Linked DNA regions of Homo sapiens: regions 2 and 3 are each linked to region 1. Evidence: fine-mapped expression QTL. A gene starts in region 1. Each other region holds a variant in brackets. All regions are shown on one strand. Distances are from middle to middle. Region 1 holds the start of ADHFE1 (alcohol dehydrogenase iron containing 1). Region 2 holds the start of MCMDC2 (minichromosome maintenance domain containing 2). Region 3 overlaps ADHFE1 (alcohol dehydrogenase iron containing 1).

Evidence for each region. PIP is the estimated chance that this variant, and not a neighbour inherited with it, causes the effect.
Region 2: its variant is fine-mapped to the expression of ADHFE1 in whole blood (TOPMed, PIP above 0.99).
Region 3: its variant is fine-mapped to the expression of ADHFE1 in CD4 T cells (Kasela 2017, PIP 0.90).

The regions. Positions count from the first base shown.
Region 1 is chr8:66,430,560-66,435,559 of GRCh38, forward strand. It overlaps ADHFE1 (alcohol dehydrogenase iron containing 1), which reads left to right and starts at 1,945. Exons shown (of 14, transcript NM_144650.3): 1 at 1,945-2,016. The coding sequence starts at 1,958. It overlaps RRS1 (regulator of ribosome synthesis 1), which reads left to right. Exons shown (of 1, transcript NM_015169.4): 1 at 1-174. It overlaps LOC102724687 (a long non-coding RNA gene), which reads right to left and starts at 1,807. Exons shown (of 5, transcript XR_929013.3): 1 at 1,725-1,807. RefSeq lists an enhancer at 1-22 and a silencer at 1,779-2,198.
Region 2 is chr8:66,860,460-66,871,308 of GRCh38, forward strand. It overlaps C8orf44-SGK3 (C8orf44-SGK3 readthrough), which reads left to right. Exons shown (of 19, transcript NM_001204173.2): 19 at 1-1,563. It overlaps SGK3 (serum/glucocorticoid regulated kinase family member 3), which reads left to right. Exons shown (of 17, transcript NM_001033578.3): 17 at 1-1,563. It overlaps MCMDC2 (minichromosome maintenance domain containing 2), which reads left to right and starts at 10,312. Exons shown (of 15, transcript NM_173518.5): 1 at 10,312-10,372. RefSeq lists an enhancer at 10,529-10,598. The variant C/T (reference allele first, on the strand shown) is at 5,290.
Region 3 is chr8:66,457,361-66,468,209 of GRCh38, forward strand. It overlaps ADHFE1 (alcohol dehydrogenase iron containing 1), which reads left to right. Exons shown (of 14, transcript NM_144650.3): 13 at 2,948-3,105. Among named protein-coding and RNA genes, the nearest start is that of ADHFE1, 30 kb to the left of the region's middle. RefSeq lists an enhancer at 684-1,212. The variant T/C (reference allele first, on the strand shown) is at 7,822.

The sequences.
Region 1 (5,000 bases):
TATTTCAGAGACTTAGATTGACGTATATGTTTCTGCATTATTTTTACAACAAGTTTGTGTATCAGAGCGGGAGTGCGGGGGAGGGAAAGAAAACAAACAGTTTCAGAATTGAATAGGCAAGTGACTGTTTTAAAGATTAAGTAATAAAGATGTCTTATCTAGTGTGACTTTTAACTTTCTGACTACTGGGTAGAAATTGTACTTGAAGCCGGTTACCTGGATACCTGGTACAGATTATTTTTGTTTACTTTCTGAAAAACACAAAGCAGGCCGTGCGCAGTGGCTCACTCCTGTAGAGTCCCAGTACTTTGGGAGGCCGGGGCGGGCGGATCACCTGAGGTCAGGAGTTCGCGACCAGCCTGGCCAACACAGTGAAACCCCATCTCTACTAAAAATAAAAAAATTAGCCAGACACGGTGGCTGGTACCTGTAGTCCCAGCTACTTGGGAGGCTGAGGCAGGAGTATCGTTTGAACCTGGGAGGCGGAGGTTGCAGTGAGCCCAGATCACGCCACTGCACTCCACTCCAGCCTGGGCAACAGAGGAAGGGGCCATCTCAAAAAAAAAAAGCAGTTCAATTATAATGGTTTCAGTGATACCACTTCTAAACTTATACTTCTTTTGGTATCAAATATAATATTCAAAGTAGTAAAACTGATGTCTGTTTTTTAAAAAGATTTTATGCCTTTCAACACTGAACACATGGATTTCCTGTAAATGATCAATTTGGGCTTCATTGACTAATGGTAATAATCCTCATTAATCCAGAAAACACTTAAATCTTTCTCTACGTTTATATCCCCAGTTGTTTGTGTGTGTGTGTTTGTTTTTAAGCTTGACGTCAGGTATAGTTTTGTTTGGGGGAAGAAAGAAACAGACCCATAAGATCCTTAATTAGGACATTATTATCTTTTTTTAAGTTCCGGAGTAGATGTGCAGGATGTGCATGTTTGTTACATAGGTAAACGTGTGCTGTGGTGGCTTGCTGCACCTATCAACCCATCACCTAAGTATTAAGTCCCTCTGCCCCCTTCTATCCCCTGCCCCCAGGCCCCAATGTGTGTTGTTCCCCTCCCTGTGTACATGTGTTCTCATAGAACATTATTTTTTGATTCATTTGTCAAGTTGGCCTGAGCTGGTTTGATTAGGAGGTGAAATGTTTATATAGCTGTCCTTGGTCTTCCTGTCCATCAATCTTTTCCAGTTTGATCGCAGTAAATTCATTTCTGTAAAACTTAATATCTCCCATAAAGGATTCAGATTTCATAATAACAGATTACTAAAAATGCAAATGTTTAGTTGTTACTGTCTTTGGATACTTTCTGATAAAGTTGAGCTTTATCGTTAATCAGCTTTTCCACTGGGACATGGCAGATATGGCACAGCCAAGCCCTCCCGGAGCATAGTCTAATCATGGCAAGTTTTAACTATTGATGTAAGAGTTTTAACTATTGATTTTGCTTTCATCAAAAGCAAAGCCATTCACACAGTATTTAACAAAAACCCTCGGGCTCTGCTAGGTTCTTGTTTACTGTTAAAACAGTTTAAAGGCAGGGTCTTGATCACTTAAAATACTCTTAGAAGGGAAAGTAACATTTTAAAGGATTAACAGTGGAAAAAGAATATCCCTGTTCCTCTTCCTTCCCCCAAGTCCTCAACATGTGAAAAATAGAGTTGATAAGTAAGGAGATTTAAGGCAGAACCCGAGGCCTACGGAGCAGTTACCTTCTACGGCAATTTCAAGGGTGGATGGTGCGAGCGCCGCTGGGGCAGCTGGCGTTCTGGTTCTTACTCCGTGGGAAAATGGCCCTGAGCCCGACTGGCTTGAGGCTTAGACAGGTGACCCCGCGAAGCGGGTGGGCAGGCGCGGCCGAGGGGCGGGAGGCGGGCAGCCTCCGTGATTGGCCGGCGGAGGGGGCGGTGTAGCGACCCGAGGAGGGAAGAGGACTCCAAGCGCCATGGCCGCTGCCGCCCGAGCCCGGGTCGCGTACTTGCTGAGGCAACTGCAACGCGCAGCGTGAGTGCGGGGCCGGCGGGCGGGCAGGGGACCGCAGGGTGCCCACGCAGCCCCCTGGGTGTGACCCGCTCAGATCCTGCGCAGTCTTCTCCGCTTACTTTCAAGAATTCGGAGAATTTGGATACCGCCCTGGGCTCCCACCGCGCGCCAGGCGGAACAGCGAGGTCACAGAGTGCGCGATGCAGCCTCTCAGGGCGCAGTGAGGCAGCCTTTACTCTGCTTGTCTACCGTTAAAGAAACTGAGGCCCAGAGAGGACCTGGTCCCACATCGTAGCAGGCAGTGGAGAGCTTGGCACGGTGGCCAAGACAAATTCATGTATGCAATTGACACATATTTATTGGGCATATATTATGTGCCAAAAACTATTCTAGGTTCTGGGGATACAAAGATGAAAGGCTCTGGAGCAGTTTGAGGTCTAGTGGGGAATGGGATGAGGGGACGAGGCTAAAACCGGCTATAGCAGACTGGGTGTAGAAGGGAAGGATGGATGTGAGAAGTCGCAGAGTCACACTTCCTGGCATGTACAGGGAGTCAGGGTATTCAATGTCATGACACGCCTGCCTCCCAGCAGAAATGTGAGGTACATCCTGGTCACCTGATAAATACTTGCTGACTGTGCAAGTGCACAAGTCTGCCTGGGAAACATGGAAAAGTTTGAGCTCACAGGTGCAGATCAGTAGGAGGAAAGGCGAGGGACTGGCGAGGAACGTCAGGCAGAGAGAAGAGCAACACCAGCGATGGAGATGCAGTCCCAGGACACAAAAGACAAGTAGACCTACCTTTATAAGAGGAGGTAAAGATGGAGAAGACGGCTGATAAAAGACCATGAATAAGAATATAGCTAATACGATGAGCCCGGCAGTGTCTTACACACTTTGAATGGACTATCAGTATAATAGTAACTCTAATCCTTTCACTGACCCTATGACACACGGTATTGTCATCCTCATAGATACGGAAATAAAGGCATGGAGAAGAATTTGTCCAGTGTCACACAGCTAAGCAAATGGCACAGTCATAATTTGAACCCAGATACTCTGGCTTCACAGTCCTTGTTCTTAGGCCTGTAGTAAGGAATTTGAATTGTGTGCTGTAGATAATGGAAAGCCATTGAATAATATTTGTCACCATTAAACACTGATACCTTAAAATGTCCCATGACAAAAGAATTACATGGCCAAATAAGTTTGAGAAGCTCCTTACTGCTGTATTGCCCTCTTGGAGAATCAAAATATACATTAGACATGCAGGGCTCCAAGAAGCTACAAAAAATACTAAAGCTGTGTTCAAATTTTTGGTTGTAAACCTGTGTCATCATAGAACTCTTTGTCACACAACACCATTTATATCCCATGGAATCAGTGTCACACACAGAATATGTTTTTGGAATGGTTGCATGAAAAGGGAGTATGGCATAATCAGAACTGTGTTAGCACATTCTGGTGGAAATGTGGAGTGAAGAGGAAGGACTAGAGGTCATTGTCCTGCTCCAGCCTGAAGATAATGGCTTCATGCACGGAGAGGCAGTTCCTTGGGTAGATAGAAATGCTGAGAGGTTGGTTAGAATCCACAGGATTTTGTATCTGAATAGTGAAGAGTTGAGATTTCTGGCTTGGGCATCAAGTAAACAGTGGGCTCATTTACCAAGGCAGGGATTGTAGGAGAGTTAGTGTTAGGAGGAAAATGGCAACTTCAGTCTAGGGCATTTTGAGTTGAGCATGCTTCTGGTACATTCAGATGGAGACCCCAGTAGGTGATTGAATGTATTGTTCTGGGGCTCAAGAGTGAGTTGGGAACACATCCATCCATGCGTATGGAGGACAGTTGAAGCCCTAACAAAACTCTAACCTAGAAGGAAACAGCTGAGGGTGAATTCCTGGGGAGCAGCACTGCCACAGCAGGAGTAGCAAGATGGTGCTTTCTTCTGCACATGCTTATTATTCTAATAGGGTAAACATTTTAAAAGTGGGAGATTTCCAATGAAAATCTTGGAAAATTGGAAAATGGCATCATTGGGCACATGTTTCATCTGGGCAAAGTGGGCTAGGGCACGGGGTGATGTGTGGCCATTTCTATTGGACAGAGCATGCACTCTGGGCTTCTGCCCAACACATTCCATAGAGCAACTGCGCTGACAACTGAATGGAGGGGAAAGAATCAGCACTGAAGGAGACAGAGGCAAGGCGTGCACTGGCCAGAGAGGTTGTGGGAAGGCCCTGGAGGGCAAGAGTCACATTCCGTCTCCAGATGTGCAGCCCTGCACAGGGTGGTGGGTGCCCATAGTCCCAGCTACTCAGGAGGCTGAGGCAGGAGAATCACTTGAATCTGGGAGGCATAGTTTGCAGTGAGCAGAGATCAGGCCACTTCACTCCAGCCTGGGCTACAGAGCAAGACTGTGTCTCAAAAAAAAAAAAAAGATGTGCAATGCAGCCCTGCTTTGACTGTGTTATCTCTGGGGTACAGCAGGGAACAAAACAACCTAACCACACCATGCATGGGGCACAGGGGATAGATGACAAACTAGTTAGTAAAATTGAGAGTACATTAGCTGTTGAAAGTTATTACAGAGAACATAAAGGAGGCTGGGATGTTGAAGGAAGGGATGCAATTTTTGAGGTGTTCAGAGCAGCCCTCACTATGTTAGTTTCCTACAGCTGTTGTAACAAACTACCATGAACCTGGTGGCTTAACACACATTTGTCTTAACAGTTCCAGAGGTCAAAAGTCTGAAATGAGTTTTACTAGGCTGAAGCCAAGGTGTGAGCAGGGCCACACTCCCTCTTGAGTAAGGCTCAGAGGTGCTGCAGAATCCACTTACTTGCTTTTTTCCAGCTTCTAGAGCTCTACCTTCGGTTCCTTAGCTTGTGGCCCCTTCCTCCATCTTCACAGCTGGCACTCATCTTGCTTCAGTGCTCACATTTCTGTCTTTTGGGTCAAATCTCCCTCTGCCTCCCTTTTATAAGGCTATGAGTGATTGCATTTA
Region 2 (10,849 bases), 430 kb after region 1:
AAAAAAAGAAAAAGTAACAAAAGGAAATTATTTGTTTTTGAAATACCAGTTCAACTTTGTGGATTATTTTTCCTCTGAAGGAAAAGAAAAGGCTTAATGGTTAGGATTTTTAAGTATTCCCAAAGATCTGAAGGGTAATAAAATGTACTGGATTTTTTAAGGTGGTACCAAAAATGAATGTCTGTCATATATTTATATTACAAATACATTATATTTATGTTCTATTCATCTTTTGAATGTTTAGTATGCTATTAAGTCATTCTGAATCTTTGTATTTGCTTTTGCAAATAGGTATTTCAAAGCTCTTTTCCTAACTGGTTAAGTAAAATAAAAAATTGAGCTTTCTAGAATATTTGCCTAATTGGGAATTAAAAAGTAAAATAATAGGCCAGGCATGGTGGCTCATGCCTATAAGCACCCTGGGAGGCCGAGGCAGGCAGATTATTTGAGCTCAGGAGTTTGAGACCATCCTGGGCAACATGGCGAAACCCTATCTCTACAAAAAATACAAAAATTAGCCAGACATGGTGGCACATGCCTTTAGTCCCAGCTACTCTGGAGGCTGAAGTTGGAGGATGGCTTGAGCCCACGAGATGGAAGTTGCAGTGAACTGAAATTGTGCCACTGCACTTTTCAGCCTGGGTGCCACAGCGAGACCCTAGTTAAGAGAAAAAAAAAGTAAAAACAAATTGTGGGTCAAAGTAAATGTATACAGTTTTATTACAATGTAACAAAAGTTGAAAATCAGGCAGATGTGTATTCAGTATCCAATTCAATATATCTTAGAAAAAGCACAGGAAACAGACCTTAAAATTGTAACCTACCAACTAACTTACATGCTTATAAAAGTAAAGGAGAATAACTGGCCGGGCACGGTGGCTCATGCCTATAAAATTCCAGCACTTTGGGAGGCCAAGGCAGGAGGATCACTTGAGCCTATGAGTTCAAGACCAGCCTAGGCAATGTAGTGACACCTCATTTCTATTTATTTTAAAAAAAAGAGAGAGTAACTACAGAAGAACTTTAAAAAATAAAAAATAAGCTTACCTTGGATTCTTGGCTTAGAGTAGAGGTTTTTTTTAAGTTATGGAGGAAACATTTTTGTAAAAGTTTAATGACCCACTTTAGATGCTCCAAGAACAAGCATCCCTTCCATGTATGTCTTGAGAAAGAAATCACAGAAGCATTTCTCACCAATACTCTTTGGCTTAAAATGTTCAGCAGAATTGGGCAGTGGGGGTGACTTTTCTTATATTAATAATATTTACATCCAATACACTGAATCTTCCTTTAGAGGTAAGACTTTAATATCTATACTGTAAATATTTGGTTTATTTGGCACTACTGTAAGTTTTGTTTTTCACAAAGCTCTTATTATGAAGCAAAATAAAAATTCTAGTTTCTTGTATGATTTTTTGTACTCATTCATTCCTGTTAAGCTGCCAAAAATTAAAGTGCAATATTGTATATTTTTAAGAACAAATTTAAAATAGAATTTTGATGTTTCTCAGATCACAAGAAATACAAATCTATATAGTATAATAAAATCAGCAAAAAGATCAACTAATGTCTGTCATTATTTGAAATTGGTAATGGTTGCAATGGTCATTATAAAATGAATTATTTATATGTGTGTGGGGGAAAAATAAAATGTGAACAGAAATTATTTGGACACATGAATTACTAGATTATCATAGGCTTATGTGTATAATATTCAGAGAGCAAAATGTTTTCTAAGTTTCAAGTTTACCTTTTCTCTCATAGCATAAGTCTTTTAGGAAAATGTATGCCCTTTGAATAACCATTTCATGGTTATTATCAAAATATACCAAAGGTCTAAATGAAGACTATAATATTTTTAATGTTACCCATACCTCCCATTTTATTGCATATGGTACAAAATAGGGCTTCCCAACCATTGTCACATCATAATACACACTGAAAATTACCAAATTTGTCACACTTGGGGAATAGGTGTCCAACGATGCAGACAGTGGTAGCAGATCCTCTGTATGAAGTTTTCATATGCAATTTACAAAGAAAGCCAGCAAACTGTTCAGATATCATTTCAGCAGGAGTAAACATTTGAATGAGAGTTTAAATATTCTGAATTTTTATCACTGAAAAATTTATCATTACCAATATCTTTAGCATGTTTGTAACAAATATATTGATTTTCCACAGCCAAATGATACTACAGAACTGTACACAAACATTTTGTAAGTCATTCTTTTGTGTATAATGTACTCTATGAAAAGTAGGGATAGGCATGAGCATTTTTGGTAATGCTGTAATGACCTTTTCAATACAGTGTTAAAATTGATAACTTCATCCCTCATACAAGCAGTTTGGAAATTAGGTCTGTTTTTTAAAGTGGGATTTCCCATTCATTCATTCATTCATTTATTGAGACTGAGTCTCACCCTGTTGCCCAGGCTGGAGTGCAGTGGTGCAATCTCGGCTCACTGCAACCACCACCTCCCAGGTTCAAGCGATTCCCGTTCTTCAGCCTCCTGAGTAGTTGGGATTACAGGCATGAACCACCACACCCAACTAATTTTTGTATTTTTTAGTAGAGACAGGGTTTCACCATGTTGGCCAGGCTGGTTTGGAACTCCTGGCCTCAAGTGATCTGCCTGCCTCGGCCTCCCAGAGTGCTGAGATTACAGGCATGAGCCACCATGCTAGGCCTAGAGGAGGATATAACAATTCTAAATATATGTGCACCCAACACTGGAGCACCCAGATTAAAAACAAAGCAAATATTACTAGGTCTAAAGAGAGATATAGACAGCAATACAATAATGGGGAATTTCAATATCCCCCTCTCAGTATTAGATCACCTAGACAGAAAATCAAGAAACACTGAATTTAAACTGGACTTTAGACAAATAGACCTATCAGATATTTACACAACGTTGTATCTAACAACTGCAGAATATACACCCATTTCTTCAGCACATAGAACATTCTCTAGAATAGACCATATGTTAAGCTACAAAAGAAGCCTCAACAAATTTTTAAAAATCAATGTATCAAGTATCTTCTCAGACCACAATGGAATAAAACCAGGAATCCATACCAAGAGTAACTCTGGAGACTGTAAATATGTGGAAATTAAACAACATGCTCCTGGACGACTGACCGACCATTGGGTCAACAAAGAAATTAGGATGGAAGTGGAAAAAAAATTTTTGAAACAGATGAAAATGGAAACATGACATACCAAAACCTGTGGGATGCAGCAAAAGCAGCACTAAGAGAAGCCTATGGTAATAAATGCCCACATCCAAAAAGTAGCAAGGTTACAAATTAACAATCTAACAATGTACTTCAAGGAACTAGAAAAAGCAAGAACAAACAAAACCCAAGATGAGCGAAGAAATAATAAAGATCAGGGCAGAACTAAATGAAATAGACTAACCAATATAAAGGATCAATGAAGTAAGTTGGTTCTTGGAAAAGATAAAATTAATAAACTGCTAGCGAGACTAGCCAAGAAAATAAGAGAAGACCATCCAAATAATCAGAAATGAAAAAGGAGACATTACAATTGATACCACACAAGTAGAAAAGATTATCAGAAATTATTATGAACAACTATACATAGGAAAACTTAGAAATGGATAAATTCCTGGAAACATAAAACCTACCAAGATTGAATCAGGAAGAAATAGAATACCTGAGCAGACCAGTAATGAGTAGCAAGATTGAATCAGTAACAAAAAGTCTCCCAACAAAGAAAAGCCTATGACTGAATGGAATCACAGCCAAATCAAAATGATAATACACCACAATCAACTGGGATTTATACTTGATCCTATGTCAAGTATATGTAACAGATGCAAGGATGGTTCAACATATGCGAATCAATACACATGATACATCACATCAACAGAATGAAGGAGAAAATACATAATCATCTCAATAGATGGAGAAAAAGCATTTCATAAAGTTCAACATCTCTTTATTATAAAAACCCTCAACAAAACAAGGCATAGAAGGAATATACCTAAAAATAATAAAGGCCATATATGATAAACCCAGAGGTAATATAATGAATGGAAAAAGTTGAAAGCCTTGCCTCTAAGAACTGGAACAATACAAGGACGCCCATTTTCACTACTTCTATTCGACATAGTTCTGGAAGTCATAGCCAGAGCCATCAGGCAAGAGAAAGAAAAAGCATCCACGTTGGAAAAGAGGAAGTTAGGCCAGGCACAGTGGCTCACATCTGTACTCCCAGCACTTTGGGGGACCGAGGCAGGTGGATTGCTTGAGGTCAGGAGTTTGAGACCAGCCTGGCCAACATGGGGAAACCCCGTCTCTACTAAAATACAAAAATTAGCTAGGCGTAGTGGTGGGTGCCTGTAATACCAGCTACTAGGGAGGCTGAGGCAGGAGAATCGCTTGAACCCAGAAGGGAGGCAGAGGTTGCAGCGAGCTGAGATGGTGCCACTACACTGCAGCCTGGGTGACAGAGCGAGACTGTCTCAAAAAAAAAAAAAAGGAAGTTAAATTGACCCTCTCCACTGATGATGTTTTTTTTCTTTTTAGACATGTTCTTGCCCTGGTGCCCAGGCTGGAGTGCAGTACTGCAATCATGGTTCACTGTAGCTCAATCTCAGGCTCAAGTGATCCTCCCACCTCAGCCTCTAAAGTAGCTGGGACTACAGGCACACACCTGTAGTTTATCATATGTGATAAACTAGCCAGTCATGCCTGGCTAACTGCATTTTTAGTAGAGATGAGGTATTGCTGTGTTGCCCAGGCTGGTCTCGAACTCCTGACCTCAAGCATTCCTCCCTCCTCAGCCTCCCAAAGTGTTGGGATTACAGGCATGAACCACCACGCCTAGCCTGATCCTATATCTAGAAAAACCTGGCCAAGCACAGTGGCTCATGTCTGTAATCCCAACACTTTAGGAGGCCAAGGCAGGCAGATCTCTTGAGTCCAGGAGTTGAAGTCCAGCCTGGCTAACATGGTGAAACCCTGTCTCTACAAAAAAATAAAAAATTATCCAGGCATGTTGGTACACGTCTACAGCTACCTACTTGCTCCCCAAGTCACAGCTACTTGGGGAGCAAAGGTGGGAGGATCGCTTGAGCCCAGAAGATCAAGGCTGCAGTGAGCTGTGATTGCACCACTAATGCACTCCAACCTGGGCTGCAGAATAAGACCCTGTCTCAAAAAAAAAAAAAAAAAAAAGAAAGAAAGTAAAAGACTCCACCCCAAAACTCTTAGGTTTGAAAAATGAATTCCGTAAAATTGCAGGATACAAAATCAACA[C/T]ACTAAAATCAGTAGCTTTCTTTTTTTTGCTGGAGTCTCACTCTGTTGCCCAGGCTGAAGTGCAGTGGCGCGATCTCGGCTCACTGCAACCTCCACCTCCTGGGTTTAAGCGATTCTCCTGCCTCAGCCTCCCAAATAGCTGGGATTACAGATGCCCGCCACCACGCCCGGCTAACTTTTTGTATTTTTAGTAGAGACACGGTTTCACCATGTTGGCCAGGCTTGTCTCGAACTCCTGACCTCAGGTGATCCGCCTGCCTTGGCCTCCCAAAGTGCGGGATTACAGGCGTGAGCCACTGCACCCAGCTAGTAGCATTTTTATACACCAATAATGATCTAGCTGAGAAAGCAAGTAAGAAGGCAGTTCCATTTACAATAGCAACAAAGCAGCAGCAACAACCAAAAAACACCTAGGAATAAATGTAAATAAGGGGGTGAAAGATCTCTGCAAGGAAAACTACAAAACAGAGAGAAATTGAAGATGACACAAATGGAAAAACATCTCGTGGATCATGGATCAGAAGAATTAATATCATTAAAATGACCATGATGCCCAAAGCAACCTATAGATTGTATGCAATTCTTATCAGAATTAGAAAAGCTATCCTAAAATTCATATGGAACCAAAAAAGAGCCTGAATTGCTAAACAAAGCCTGAGCAAAAAGAGCAAAGCTTGGCTGGGTGGCTCACGCCTATAACCCCAGCACTTTGGGAGGCCAAGACAGGAAGATGACTTGAGCCCATGGCCACAAAGAGAGACCCCATCTCTACAAAAAAATTTCAAAATTAGCCAGGCATGGTGGCATGTGCCAGTAGTCCCAGCTTCTCGGGAGGCTGAGGCAGGAGGATCACTTGAGCCTGGGAGTTCAAGGCTGCAGTGAGTTGTGATCACTCCACTGCACTCCAGCCTGGGTGACGGAGAAAGACCCCATCTCAAAAAAACAAACAAAAAGAAAAAAAAAAAGAACAAAGCTGGAGGCATCATTACCTGACTTTAATATATATTACAAGGCTGGCTGGGCATGATGGCTCACACCTGCAATCCTAGCACTTTGGGAGGCTGAGATGGGCAGGTTGCTTGAGCCCAGGAGTTTGAGACCAGCCAAGGCAACATGGTGAGACCCTGTCTACAAAAAATACAAAAAAAATTAGCTGGGTGTGGTGGTGCACACCTGTAGTCCCAGCTACTAGGGAGGCTGAGGCAGAAGGATCTTCTAATAGATTTTTCTGTATTTAATACATCCTTTAAAATACCTGTTAAGTCAGGTGTGGTGGCATGCACTTATAGTTCCAGCTATTGCAGAGGCTGAAGCGGGAGGATCCCTTGAGCCCACGAGATGGAGGTTGCAGTCAGCTGAGATGGCACCACTGCATTCCAGCTTGGGTGACAGAGTGAGACCGTGTCTAAAAAAATTTTTTTTAATTATCTGATGAAAATATGTCATGGCAAAAATAAACAGAATTTAAAAATTAAAATTAAAAGAAAGCTTTGAAAAAAATTTTAAAAATAAAAAATTGGCCAGGTGCAGTGGCTCACACCTGTAACCCCAGCACTTTGACAGGCCAAGGCAGGTGGATCACCTGAGGTCAGCAGTTCGAGACCAGCCTGGCCAACATGGGGAAACTCTGTCTTCACTAAAAATACAAAAATCAGCCAGGTATGGTGGCAGGTGTCTGTAATCTCAGCTACTCAGGAGGGTGAGGCAGGAGAATCACTTGAACCTGGGAGGCGGAGGTTGCAGTGAGCCAAGATCAAGCCATTGCACTCTAGCCTAGGAGACAAGAGCAAAACTCCATCTCAAAATAATAATAATAATAATAATAATAATAATAATAATATAAAAACAAAAAATAAAAAATAAAAGCTTTGTGTTTCTCAAAACTCAAAAACTCATAAGACAATATGTAAGAGCCGTTCATTTTGCTACATATGAATTATACCTCAATGAAAAATATTAAAAGGCAAAAAAGCTATATGAAAGGCAAAAATAAAAATAATTCATAATTCTACCACCTTAATATTTGAGCCATTTTACCAGATTGCATGTAATTTCTTTCTGCTGTTTAGTGATGTTTTGTAAAAATAAAGTATTGTAAGTATGTAGCAATAAGCAGCAATGGCATTTTGACTCTAGATATCGCTATCATTTTCAGAGAGTTTGCAATGTATAAAATGTGCTGAATTCTTAAGGTTTTAAATTCCAATTTTAGGTCTAACAGATTTTTTTTTTCTAAGAGTCTCACTTTTTACCTAGGCCAGAGTCCAGTGGTGCAACCATAATGCACTGCAACCTCCCACTTCAGCCTCCCTAGTAGCTGGGACTACAGGTGCATGCCACCATGCCTGACTGTGCAGATATTTTATAGGATGTATTAAATACATAAAAATCTATTAGAAGATTTTGCTGGACTTGGTTGATATAAAACTATTACTCTGGTGCAGAAACGAACGATGTTATGCTATGAACTGATTAATCAAAACTTTAAAATAGCCAGACGCGGTGGCTCATGCCTATAACAATCCCACCACTTTGGGAGGCCAAGGCAGGAGGTTCACCTGAGGTCAGGAGTTCAAGACCAGCCTGGCCAACATGGTGAAACCCCAACTCTACGAGAAACTCAAAAATTAGCCAGGCGTGGTGGCATGTGCCTGTAATCCCAGCTACTCGGGAGGCTGAGGCATGAGAATTGCTTGAACCCAGGAGGCAGAGATCATGCCACTGCACTCCAACCTGGGCAACACAGTGTGACTCCATCTCAAAAAAAACTTTAAAATATATGGATACCCTCTAGAAGAATTTATTCTACTTTAAAATACAATGGCCATCACCAGACCATAGCCTATTCCCATCTAAAACTGTAGTTATTACCACAGAATTGTAGTACAAGACAATTTGAACATCCTCATTGTTGTTGTAAATTGATTTCTACTCTGAAAAAGTATTTTATCTCACAACTAAAATAGATTATATTCTCCCAGAGAAACAAACTCTGAGGTGTTTTGCCACTCCTATTATATATGAAAAGGGATGACCTCAATTACTTTTTCATGGAAAATGATCCAACCCAATGCAATGGAGCAGAGTTGATAACTGTATCAAGAACACTAAAGGTTGAGGCCAGGCACGGTGGCTCATGCCTGTAATCCCAGCACTTCGGGAGGCTGAGGTGGATGATTGCTTGAGCCCGGGAGTATGAGACCAGCATGGGAAACAAAATGAGACCCCTGTCTCTACGAAAAAAAATTTACAAGTTTGCCAGGCATAGTTGAAGTCTTAGCTACTTGGGAGCCTGAGGTGAGAGGATCACTTGAGCCAGGAGATTGAGACTGCAATGAGCCCTGATTGGGCCACTGTGTCCTGGGACACAGGTAGACCTTGTCTTAAAAAAAAAAAAAAGGAAATACTAATGGTGGAGAAGCAGGTACAATTTAAGGGTTTGGGGTTTTTTGGTAACAGTTTCTTTTTTTTTTTTTTTGGAGACAGGGTCTCGCTCTATCGCCCAGGTTGGAGTGCAATGGTGCGATATCTGCTCACTGCAACTTCTGCCTCCTGGGTTCAAGTGATTATCCTGTCTGCTAATAGTATTAATCCAGAGTAGCTGGAATTACAGGCGCGCGCCACCACACCTGGCTAATTTTTGTATTTTTAGTAGAGATGGGGTTTCACCATGTTGTCCAGGCTGGTGTCCACTCCCGACTTCAAGTGACCCACCCGCCTTGGCCTCCCAAAGTGCTGGGATTATAGGCGTGAACCACCGCACCCGGCCAACCTCAATAAGATTTAATTCAAGTACTGTACAATTCAACTATTTAAAATGTACAATCAACTGGCTTTCAGTAGATTCAGAGTTGTGTGACTATCACCACAATCAATTTTAGATCATTTCCATCACTTCTAAAAGAAAACCTGTGTGAATTCATGAACAACAAAAAATATGGTACACACACAGTGGAATATTATTCAGCCTTAAAAAGGAAGGAAACTCTAACATGTTACAACATGGATGAAACTGGAAGATGTTTGGCAAAGTGAAATAAGCCCATCACAAATGGACAAATACTGTTTGATTCTATTTACATGAGGTACCTGGAGTAGTCGAATTCAAGGAAGCAAAGACTGATGGTTGCCAGGGGATGAGGAAGAGAAGAATGGGGAGTTGTTTAATGTGTATGGAGTTTCAGTTTGGGAAAATGAAAACAGTTCTACAGATAGTGGTGATGAGTGCACAGTGTGAACGTAGGTAGTGTAACTACACTTTAGGATGGTTAAAATTGTATATTTTATGTATATTTTACCACAATTTAAAAAGAACAAGAAATCCCATACGCATTAGCAATCATTCTGCATTCTCAACCAACCTCTGGGCAACCACAAATCTGCTTTCTTTCCTTATGGATTCGCCTATTCTGGACATTTCATATAAACAAAATTACACAACATATGGCCTTTTGTGTCTGGCTTCTTACATAGTGTTTGCCAGGTTCATCCATGTTGTAGCATGTATTAGTGCCTCATCACGTTTTATGGCCAAAACCATTCCATTGTATGGCTTACACCACAGTTATCCATTAATCGGTGATGGGCATTCATATTGTTTCCACTTTGGGGCTACTATGAATAATACTATGAACATTCGTGTAGAAGTCTCTGTGTGAACATATGTTTTCAATTCTCTTGGGTGTATTTATAAATACCTAAGAGTGGAATTACTGGATCATAGGGTAACTTTATGTTGAGTCCTTCGAGGGAATACTGGAATGTCTTCTAAAGTGACTAGACATTTTGCATTCCCTGAAGCAGCGTTTTGAATTTTTTAAACATAACATCATTTGCCTGAGATAACAACAAAAACCAAACGTAGACCTATTTTTTCTCTGCTTCGCTGGGAGGGAGCAAGAGTGAAGCTATTAAAACGTAAGGGAACAAGCCCGGCTAGTTCCCCTGCTGACCCGAGGGCGCGGGCGGTCCCGGCAGGCCCCGCGACGCAGCCAACGGCCGGGACGTGCGCGCATGCGCGCTAGGACTCCGCTCCGCCTACGCTGCAGGCGGAGAGCAACCGCCAAGCTTGGTGGGAGTCAAGGTGAGTGCAAAGCACTACAGCGCTGGGGTCCCACTAACTCGAGGTCACCGCTGTCAGTGGGAGGGGTCCTCATGAGTCTGGACTCGCTTTCATCCGCTTTGGTTGTGAAGTGTTTTCCTGCAGTCTTCCCCTCACCAGTTCATCCCCGGTGCTGACAGGGCACGGAGAGAAGACAGAATCCGCGCCTGTTCCACGTGCAGCAACACTCGGCGTTCGTTAGACTAAGGGAAGACAGGGAGTTAGAATTTTATCCCTGTTCCCTCACTTAACGCTTTTCCACAGGCTTCTATGTCTTTTCCCGACTTAATATGCCTCCGTGAAAACGCGTCCACTCCCCAGGGCCTCCGCTTTACGCAGTGACACCCAGACTTAGCTCTAACTCTTTTGATGCCACCGAACTCCAGGCCCTGATTTATGGCCCCCTCCTGCTTACATCTATCAGGGAATCCCAAGAGTCCTCAAAGTCAGGATATCTCA
Region 3 (10,849 bases), 30 kb after region 1:
CCAGCTACTTGGGAGGCTGAAGTGGGAGGATCATCTGAGCCCAGGAAGTTGAGGCTGCAGTGAGCTGTTATCATGCCACTGCACTCCAGCCTGGGAGACAGAGTGAGACTCTCTCTCTCAAAAAAAAAAAAAAGAACCATAAAGGACAATACCAAAAAATATTGCTTTGCGATAGCTTAATAATGAAATGTCAGGCTGGGCACAGTGTAATCCTAACACTTTGGGAGGCTGAGGTGGGAGGATAGCTTAAGCTCAGACGTTTGAGACCAGCCTGGGCAACATAGTGAGATCCTGTTTCTTTAAAAACATTTTTAAAATATAAATATATGATTAAAAATGTCAGTGACTTGACCAAAGCCCTATCTAGCACTAAAATTCTGTCATTATTATGTTTCTGAGAGTATTGAGAGTATTTGTAGTAATACTGTTTCCTGTTTTTATCTCAAGGGAAAGTATAATTATTTTTATATTTTTAATGTTATAAATGACTTTTGCTATGTTCGATAATAAAATGAATCTGTATCAGGAAGCAGGAGTAAATTCCTAATTATAGAGAATCAAAACAACTGGAAACTTTTTTTCACCAAAGCCTGCAAAGGTCCTGATCAATTAGAAACTTTATAAAAATATCCTGAAAGAGGAGTCTGTTTGCCATACTGTAGAATAAATAATGTCAATAATAAGATATCCACAGTACCTTTTGAATCTTACCAGAAATAAAATGATATTCAGGATAGCTTTAATGGTAAGTAAAATGTTGGTGTTTTGCTAATACAAGAACTCTTTTAAGTAGACTTGAATATTTTATTAACTTGCAAAACATCTTATTCCGCCACTTGTGTTTAGTTAGGGCAAGAAGGGAAAGGCTAAAAAGAAAACTTCATTATGCTCTCCTAGCCCAGCCGTTGGAGAGATTATTTCCAGGGAGGTAGGAAGGACCGCAGACATCCTCCTGCAGGAGCTCCCGCTGAGTCCCAGGTGCTGTGCTGGGAATGTTAATGACACAAGCCCAGGGCAGAGAGGGGCCAGGGGCTCCATTTCCCAGAGGGTGCTGAGGGGAAACAGTGCAACTTTGCCAAGGATCTGTGTCCCTTTTCTCTTTCGGACTGGAGATGTTGTTCAGCCATATTTTGGGACTCAGCTGCCTTTGTGTATATTCAAAGCATGTAAATAAGAAGAGAGAGCGCAAATCATAGGCTACATTTATGATAAATGGGAAAATCTTAGAGAACTTAAAGTTAACACTCTAGGCAACTAGCAACACTACTGAGAAGGGAGTTCCTCTGTTAGACAAATTCCAGGCTGGAAGAACCCACTGATTCTTCCTTCTTGAATGGGAAGTTTTAATGTTATCTACACTTAGCTATCCCACACGATGAAATATTTTGATTCTCCATGTCATCTTAGATTTCTTAGCTTAGAATACTGATGTATTCTTTTTCCTACCATCTCTTTTTTTTCTGTAACACTTCATAGGAAAATGCAGAGATTTCGATGGTGTTTTATGGCAGTATTCCCAGGAACATTAAAACTTCATAAACTTCGTATCATGTGTCACCACTCCACCTAATCCATATTTTAGCTGCCGCTGGGTAATACAGACTGGTCTTGTCAGGCAAGGTTTACCTTTCATCCGGCTGCTCTCCCAGCCAGCCCCGTATCTGGTTCTATTCATACCTTTTCCTGGATTCCTAAGAGTTCTCACTGTCATGGAAGAGAAAGCTAAAAACCGATTTAATAATGTGCTTCAATATGGAGGTGAAAGTAGTCACGATCTCCTTTTGAACAATACAAGAGAAAGTGGACTTAGACTACTGTGGGAGGCATTTTGCATAGACTTCATATAATGCTACACTCTGTAGAGGGCTTTACTTCTTGGCAGTGAATGTGTTTGGCTAGAATATATGAGAATGTAGGGTGCTAAGGGTTGTGAAATCAGTTCCCTTCCTCTGGGAACTTTCTCTGTCACCCTGCCTGAGGGCAGAACCTCCCGCGTGGCTCTTCCAGATTGCCATTTCCATGATTATGTGCATTATTTTTTAATTTTTATTATATATATATATATATATATTTTTTTTTTTTTTTTAACAGAGACAGGGTCTCACTGCTCAGGTTGGTCTTGACCTCCAGGACTCAAGTGATTCTCCTGCCTCAGCCTTCCAAAGTGCTGGGATTACAGATGTGAGCCACCAGGCCCGGCCTCTTAATTACTAATCATGTAAAAATTCTGCCCTTATGTATCTTCTTTCATCAATACCATTATTATCTGCATATGAAACGCTGTTTTCTGAGAGCCTTCATGTTCTTTGGTCCTGCCCAGCTGGTTCTATAATATTTATTTAGAGGAACCTACCCTGCCCTTTGGCAACAGAATCTAAAATTAAAAGTTTTATAGCTATAGAGGACAAAAATTTTCCTCCCTGTTCACACATAATCCATTTTTATCATGCTTATTTTCTTTTTGGTGGTTAATTTTAGAGCTTTTGTACTTCTGTAAGCTTGTCTCACAGGGTGTTTGCAAAGGATTTGTCTTTTTCTAAGATGTTGCTGTGGGAAAAGACGTTGAACACATCATACACCTCTAGATGTCAGCAAATTCCAAGCCTTGAAATTACATAAGCTGTGTGTTCTTCAAATATTCATTCCTCCATCCCAGCACCAGCCGACTTTCTTGCCTTGTTCTGCACCTCTCTTCTTGTCTTTGTTCCTCTTCTTCCTACCACACAAGGGGCAAGTATGTAGGACTTGGCAGCCCCTCCGAAATGTCAGAGCTAAGTGAGCTCCCCCAGCCAACTTGGGCCCTCCTGGGGAGGCACACGATGGCCCCGTGCTGGGCGTTAGGGAGACCCCGTGGGTGTGCATGGTGTATTCACTGATCTTGTGACTGAACTCCACCCAGAGCCCGTTTCTTCCTCTCTCCCTACAGTCAGCACTTTATGTCTTCTAGGAGCCGACACCCGCACTGCCAGGATCCAAGATGCAGGGCTGGTGTTGGCAGACACGCTCCGGAAATTCTTATTCGATCTGGATGTTGATGATGGCCTAGCAGCTGTTGGTTACTCCAAAGCTGATATCCCCGCACTAGTGAAAGGAACGCTGCCCCAGGTAAGAGACCGGCAGGCTCCTCACTCCCTGCGAAGGAGCCTAGCGCCTCCAGAAAGACATGCTGCATTGATGGCGGGCTAGCAGGGATGGAAACCAGGGCTCCCCGGTGGTTCTCGGGTCTCCTCCACAGCAGACAGCAGTTCTGTCCTTTCCTGGTGCAACAGGGCCAGGCCCTCGCCTTTCTGTTCATCCATACAGCTGTAGCTGAGGTGAGGCTTTTATGAAAATTTTCATGAAGGGATGGATCCTTTATGAAAATTCAAGGCAAAAACAACCAAACTGATCTTGAACTATGGCAAAATTTCCCTTTTCCCCATTTCTGTTCTTTGAAGGGCTCCTATAAATAACTATGTGAAGCTGTTCCAAAAGGACCACCAATATTATTTTCCATTGTAAAAGAGTTCCAGGTCTCTACTATTTTGTGAAGAATAGGCATAGCCTTTCAATTAACACTATCACCAAATTGCTTTCGATGAATGTGGGAGATTGTATACTTGATACATATCTGTGTCACTATGGGTCTGATTTCATTTCTTAAATTTTTGTGAAGAATGTGAATGGAGCTGCATCCCTAATTCGGTAGAATCATACTAGGTGTAAAGTTTGCTCTTCTGAGGTTCTCATGAAGAACTCTGATCCCTCAGTGGACCTCTCTTGAGCTAGCACATCAGATCCTAATAGGCCAAGGTCCTGTTCATTGCAATTCACCATAAAGCAGAGAGCTCAGAGCATGAGTGCTTGGTTGGTGGACCACACCATAGTCGCCATGCCCAGAATACTCCTTTAGTCCTCTTGGCCAATATGGGAAAGGCAGAGGTCACCTCAATGCTATGAGGGTATGAGGATAAGGATCTTCTGCCACAGGCTAAGGCATTCCCTGACCATGGAACAGAGTTAGCAGCTGAAACATCCACTCACACAGCAGCCTGCTTGCCACAAGTGCTGGTGCTTTTCCCTCACCCCACTCCAAGTAGGCAAGGGCCTCAAACTAGCTTCTTCCTCCCCACTTCGCTAGTGCTTAGAATGTTGACAGCCTCACCACTCACTTAAGATAATATTTATATAGATTGTGTTCATAGACTCATGTGTCCACAGGAGCCAGGTAGAGAATAGCAGTGAACAATGTCATGTAAGGCCTTAGGGAGTGGTGGGGACTTTGGTAAGCCAGAAAGCACGTGACCCATCTAACTGGGTGAGCAGCTCAGCTGCAGTTTATCATCACCAAGCAGAAGATCAGGTCCCAGTGTTGGTAGAACTACCAACTCTCAAGAAAAATCAGCAATCCGGATGTTTGTGTTGAATTCCCTGGTTTCCAATGCACAAATGAAATGTAGTCCGTGAACCACCAGTTTCCCTGATTTGGATTCAGGCTCAGTGAATTCAATTGCATCTACAAATAGAAATGAACAAGAAACAAAGGAGTCTCAAAGTATAGGAGAGACCCTGGGCTAACCCACAAACCCTTAATTCTAACCCATACGTCCAAGGGACCAAATCACTAAAAAAATCACACTCTCTAACGCCCTCACAGTTATTTTATCCAAGCCTACCAGCCTGTAAGTCCTGTGAGGGCAGGAATCTGTCTGCTTGGCTCATCCATTTTCCATTGCACCTAGCACAGGCTAGTAAACATGTTAAACGAACACATACCTCCATTCCTCTCCTCCTAAGTCCTCTGTCTAGGTAAGCTTTAATGGCTGACTGAGGATAACTTTTTGAAAAGTTTCCTTAGACTGACTAGGACTCAACCAAAGACAGGGGAGCCATGAAAGCTCAGGGACACCGTAGACTGAGTGGTCATAGTGATTTTTTCCGGAGGGAGGGACAGGGCTGGAGTGCAGTGGCATAATCACAGCTCACCACAGCCTTGACCTCCCAGGCTCAAGTGATCCTCTGTCCTCAGCCTCCCGAGTAGCCAGCACTATAGGTGTGTGCCACCATACCAGGCTAATTTTTTTAACTTTTTTGTACACAATAGGTCTCACTGTGTTACCCAGGCTGGTCTTGAATTCCTGAGCTCAAGCAATCCTCCTGCCTTGGCTTCCCAAAGTCCTAGGGTTATAGATATGAGCCACAGTGCCTGGCATTCACTGCAATTTTAATGTAGCTTCTGGCTTTATGGCATGGTCCCAGTGACACTGTCCACCCTGCAAGGGGCCTTCCAAAAGGTTCTGTTTGTTTAGCCCAGGAAAGTGTTCAGGAAAATGTGTGGGTCCATCTCTAAGAATGGTATCCATGATTTTCAGATGAAACTGTCTGATACCCTTGGCGATTTGATTGCTGACCATCAGTACACACTGACAGGTGTTTACTCTTCTAATTCTACTGTGGTCAGACTGTCACTTTCTTTTGTTTGTTTTGTTTTTTGTTTTTGAGACAGAGTTTCACTCTCATTGCCCAGGCTGGAGGGCAGTGGTGCAATCTTGGCTCACTGCAACCTCTGCCTGCCGGGTTCAAGTGATTCTCCTGCCTCAGCCTCCCGAGTAGCTGGTATTACAGGCACACACCACCATGCCCAGCTAATTTTTGTATTTTTACTAGAGACGAGGTTTCACCATGTTGGCCAGGCTGGTCTCAAACTCCTGACCTCAGGTGATCCGCCCACCTCAGCCTCCCAAAGTGCTGGGATTACAGGCGTGAGCCACCACAACTGGCCCAGACTGTCACTTTCAAAAGCTATTCCACGTAGCAGCAGATCCAGCTTAACATTTGAGACCACTAAAATAGCACTAAATTAACACTAAAATAGCAACTTAATTAGGTATCATTCTGAATGCCTCAGTGCACATGCAATACTGGGAAATCACAGATAGCAAAATCTTAATTGGACAAAACCAATTTCTTAGTTTTACAAAAATGGGAGGTAAATGGAATCTTTTGGATATAAGTTCTGTCTTAAAGTAGGAAGCCAGATTTTCCTCAGGCTGTATTCATAAAACACCCCAAGGCATCTGCTGCCTTTTTTCCTCTGATCATGTTTTCATGATTCAGAGAAATATAGTTAATTTTAATTAAACTAGCCCTAGGTTCATTTGGAGTCTACGTGATTGAGATATGTGTATATTCACAGATCGATAGGACTTTGGTAGGAATCTTAGAAATAAGCTTGTCCATTTTGCAGATGAATAACTACTATGGAATTTTGTTTGTTTGTTTGATGGCAGTGACTGTTTTACAGGAATGCTGTGGCCACTTCAGAGTTTTACACATGCAATAGACTAATCTTCGCTTATTAGTATCTCCAGGATTTAAGGTAGTGAGAAGAATATACTGGCTCCTCCAAAGAACGTCACCAGAAAGGTTATTCAATGTAGTTGACATTTGATGAAGGTTCTTTTCTGTTCAGCAGTGAAGGATTGGTTTTCTCTGGAAGAAACAACCAGGCCAGTATTCTTGACCAAACACAGCCCATACTGGTGGCAGCTAATAGCAGCCCTGTGTACAGAGGCTTTCAACTGCCATAGCCAGGCTGCAAGGGGAGCAGGCAAGAATATATTAATCTTCCAAGCTGGATTTCTAAAACCCCTGGAAAGAAACATTTACATTTCAAATCAAAACATTTCATTACTGAGGAGCGCTGTCTACCCAAATGAGCACTTCCACTCCCTGGTAGACAGGCCAGCTGAAATGTTGTTATTTCATGAACGTGCTAAAAGTAGATGTCTGAATTTATTTCGTTCCCATGTTAATGAGTTGTCCTTCACTCTTACATGCCTATAAATAATAGCACATCATTGCTTAACATATCTTAATTCTGAGAGAGTTTAGCTTTTTTATGGCAGAGCTGATATGTATAGGGACATATCACAAACTTTATGTCCTTGTCCTGTTTAACCAATCACTGGGGGCCAGAAACGCGAAACAGAAACTCAGCTCAGGCTTGGCTTCAAATACTTCTAAGAGTCCTGCACCGCTCCACCAAAGATAAACAGGATCATGTCAAGGGCCTTTGAGCTCATCAGATAAGACTCTCTCCCATTATGAACAACGTAACTTGCCATCATCTGCAGTTACAGCAAACACTGAACTTCAGTTCTTGACCCTGCACAAACACATACATAATGAGACCCTCTGCCTTGCTATGGATTTCCAAAATTCCTTAGGGTCTCTTAAAAATCTGCTGGGATGTGAAACTTTGTCTTTACCTCACCCATACTCATAGGCATTGTCCCTCACCCCTCTCTCATCTGTCCCTCTATCCTTTCTTCCTGCTTTAACTTATCTTTTAAATTGTGATAAAATATGTATAACATAAAATTTACCATTTTAACCATTTTTAAGTGTACAATGCCATGCCATTAAATACATGCACAATGTTGTGCAACCATCACCACTATCCATTTTCAGAACTCTTTTTTTAATCATGCCAAACAAGTGGTGTGTCTGTTAAACACGAATTCCCCGTTCTCCCCTTCTCACAGCCCCTGGGAACCTCTGTCCTACTTTCTGTCTCTATGAATTTGCCTATCCTAGGTACCTCATGTAAGTGAAATCATACAATATTTGTCCTTTTGTGACTGGCTTATTTCACCCAGCACAGTGCCTTTAGTGTTCATCCACGTTGTAGCATGTGTCAGAATTTTATTCCTTTTTTATAGCTGAATAATGTTCCATTGTATGGATATACTACATTTTGGTTATGCATTTACCTATTGATAGACACTTGGGTTGTTTCCACCTTTTGACTATTATGAATAATGCTGCGATGAATATTGG[T/C]GTACAAGTATCTATTTGAGTCCCTGCTTTCAATTCTTTGGGGTATATACCTAGGAGTAGAATTGTTGTATCATATAGTAACTCTATGTTTAACTTTCTGAGGAACTGCTAAACTGTTTTCTATAGTGGCTGCACCATTTTACATTTCCATTAACAGTGCACCAGGGCTTCAGTTTCTTCACATCCTCAACAACACTTGTTATTTTTCTTTTGTGTGTGTGTAATAGCCATTCTAATGGTGTGAAGTGGTATCTTATTGTTTTGATTTGCATTTCCCAAATGACTAAGGATGGTGAGCATCTTTTCATGTGCTTATTGGCTATGTATATATATATATTCTTTGGAGAAATAACTAATCAAGTCCTATGCCCATTTTTGAATTGAGCTGTTTGAGGTTTTTTGTTGGTGAGTTGCAAGAATAATTTTTTTCTTTTTTTGAGACGGATTCTTGCTCTGTCATCAGGCTGGAGTGCAGTGGTGCAATCTTGGCTCACTGCAACCTCCGCCTCCTGGGTTCAAGCAGTTCTCCTGCCTTAGCCTCCTGAGTAACTGGGACTACAGGCGTGCACCACCACACCCGGCTAATTTTTGTATTTTTAGTAGAGATGGGGTTTCACTGTGTTGGCCAGGATGGTCTCAATCTCTTGACCTCATGATCCACCCGCCTCGGCCTCCCAAAGTGCTGGGATTACAGGTGTGAGCCACTGTGCTCAACCAGAATAATTTTTATATCCTGAATATTAATCCCTTATCAGATATATGATTTGCAATTTTTTTTAATTTTGTTGTCTTTTCACTCTCTTGACCATGTCCTTTGATGCACAAAAGTTTTAAATTTTTATTCAGCCTAGTTTATCTGTTTTTTTTTTTCTTTTTTCCCTGTGCTTTTTCTTTTTTTTCTTTTAGAGACAGAGTCTTGCTCTGTTGGCCAGGCTGGAGTGCAGTGGTGCAATCTCGGCTCACTGCAATCTCCACCTCCCAGGCTCAAGCAATTCTCCTGCCTCAGCCTCCTGAGTAGGTGGGATTATAGCTGCCCACCACCACACCCAGCTGAATTTTTTTTTTTTTTTTTTTTTGTATTTTTAGTAGAGACAGGGTTTCACCATGTTGGCCAGGCTGGTCTCGAACTCCTGACCTCAAGTGATCCGCCTGCCTCAGCCTCCCAAAGTGCTGGGACCACCGCACTGGACTCCCTGTGCTTCTGGTGTTACATCCAAGAAATCATTGCCAAAGCCAATATTCCTAAAGATTTTTCCCTAATTATTCTTCTAAGAGTTTTAGGGTTCTAGCTCTTACATTTAGGTTTTTGATGCATTTTGAGCGAATTTTTTTAATACATCCATCCTTCTTTTCATTCCTTTTACCAGACAAAACAAATACCTACTGTATACCATGCATTGTACGGTATACTAAAAGAAGGAAAATAAAGTCCCTTTTCTCCTTTGTGAAGCTTACCTTCTAGTGAGGGGAGACAGTGAACATCTATAAATAAGATGTAAATGAAATCATTTCAGATAATGATTAGTGTATGAAGGAAAACCTGCATAAGGAGATAGAGAGTGATCTCACGGGGAAAGTGTGGAGAGATCTCCAGCCAGGGTGTTGGGAAGGTGCATGATGATAGGCCAATGCTTTCTAGGCAGAGGGGAAGGGCCCTGAGGCAGGGTCAACGTTAGCATATTCAAGGAACTTAAAAGGGATGGTGGGACTAAGTGAGGTGTTAGAGCTGGGGCAGGAAACAGAGCCAGATCGGGGTAGCCTTAGAGGCCATGGTTTTGTTGTAATTGCCACAGGCATTTATCTGCGAGCATTAAACACAGGAATGGTAGGATTCAGTTTATACTGGAAAAAAATCACTTTGGCTGCTGTGGGGAGAATGACCTCTGGGGGGCAAGAATGGAGCAAAAGTGGAAACAGACCTTTCAGGAAGCTTCTCAAGCTGGACAGGCGAGTGATAGCAGTGTCCTGGATTCCGGTTGTGGTACCACAGGAGGTGAGAAGCGCTCTGACTGGGGCTTCATTTTGGAAGTAGGACTGACACTCCTGCTGATGAGTTGAACTTGCAGAGCAAGGGAAAGGGGAATCAAGTGTGGCTCCTGGGTTTTGCCTGAGCTACTGGGTGTCATTTCTGAGATGAGAAAATGGTAGGAGCGGTGGGGTGGGAGAGTCAGAGTTCTATCTTGTATATGTGAACTTTGAGACTCCAGTATCCCCCTCCCCACCATCTTCACTAATTCAGCAGATAACTGTTGAGCATCTACTTACTATGTAAAGCCCTCTGGTAGGCGCAGGGCAGAGAGCAGTGCACACAGCTGAGCCCCTGGCCTCACAAGTTTCCCTTCCACTAGCTACACTCCCAAACACATGCCAGCAATAGAAAACATGCCCAGAGACCCATGAAAATGGAACCTCAAAATGGACATTCCTCAGTTTCATGCAGGTGCCAGGGGAGTCATCGCTGTACATTTTAGCCCCTGTCCCCGAGAAGCTACTGACCAGAGTATAAATAGAAGTAGGATGTGCTGGATGTCTTCGCTGAATTGACTCAATAATCATTGGAGAAATTAACAAATCACTGGATTTGCTTGGGAACATAGAGATAAAACCTTAGTTAATAGAAAAAAACGGAGTCACTTGTTGCACATAGCATGAACATTAATGTTCTACTGAAGTCCTTTTGAATATGCCTTAAGTCCAAGTTGCAAAATACATGGTCTTAGACTTCGGGGACGACCCAGTTCTCTCTCAGAGCTCTGTGTGTACAGAGAACCTGGCAGAGGTGGTTGACTGACCTAGTTTTGTCATGATAAGGGTGTTTTCCCCAAGATTGGTTTCGGCAGAAGGCTGTTGCCAGGGCGTAAGGCAAGGGGCAGTGGCTTTCGAAAGCTCTGTGGGGAAAGAGGTATGATGTGATAAACCTCTGAGATGGGGATCAACTCATATGAAGTATACAAGAAATACCGTTTTTAAAGATATGGCGTTTATCAAGTCATTGATTCTTATGACCAAGTTAATTTCCATAACTTTG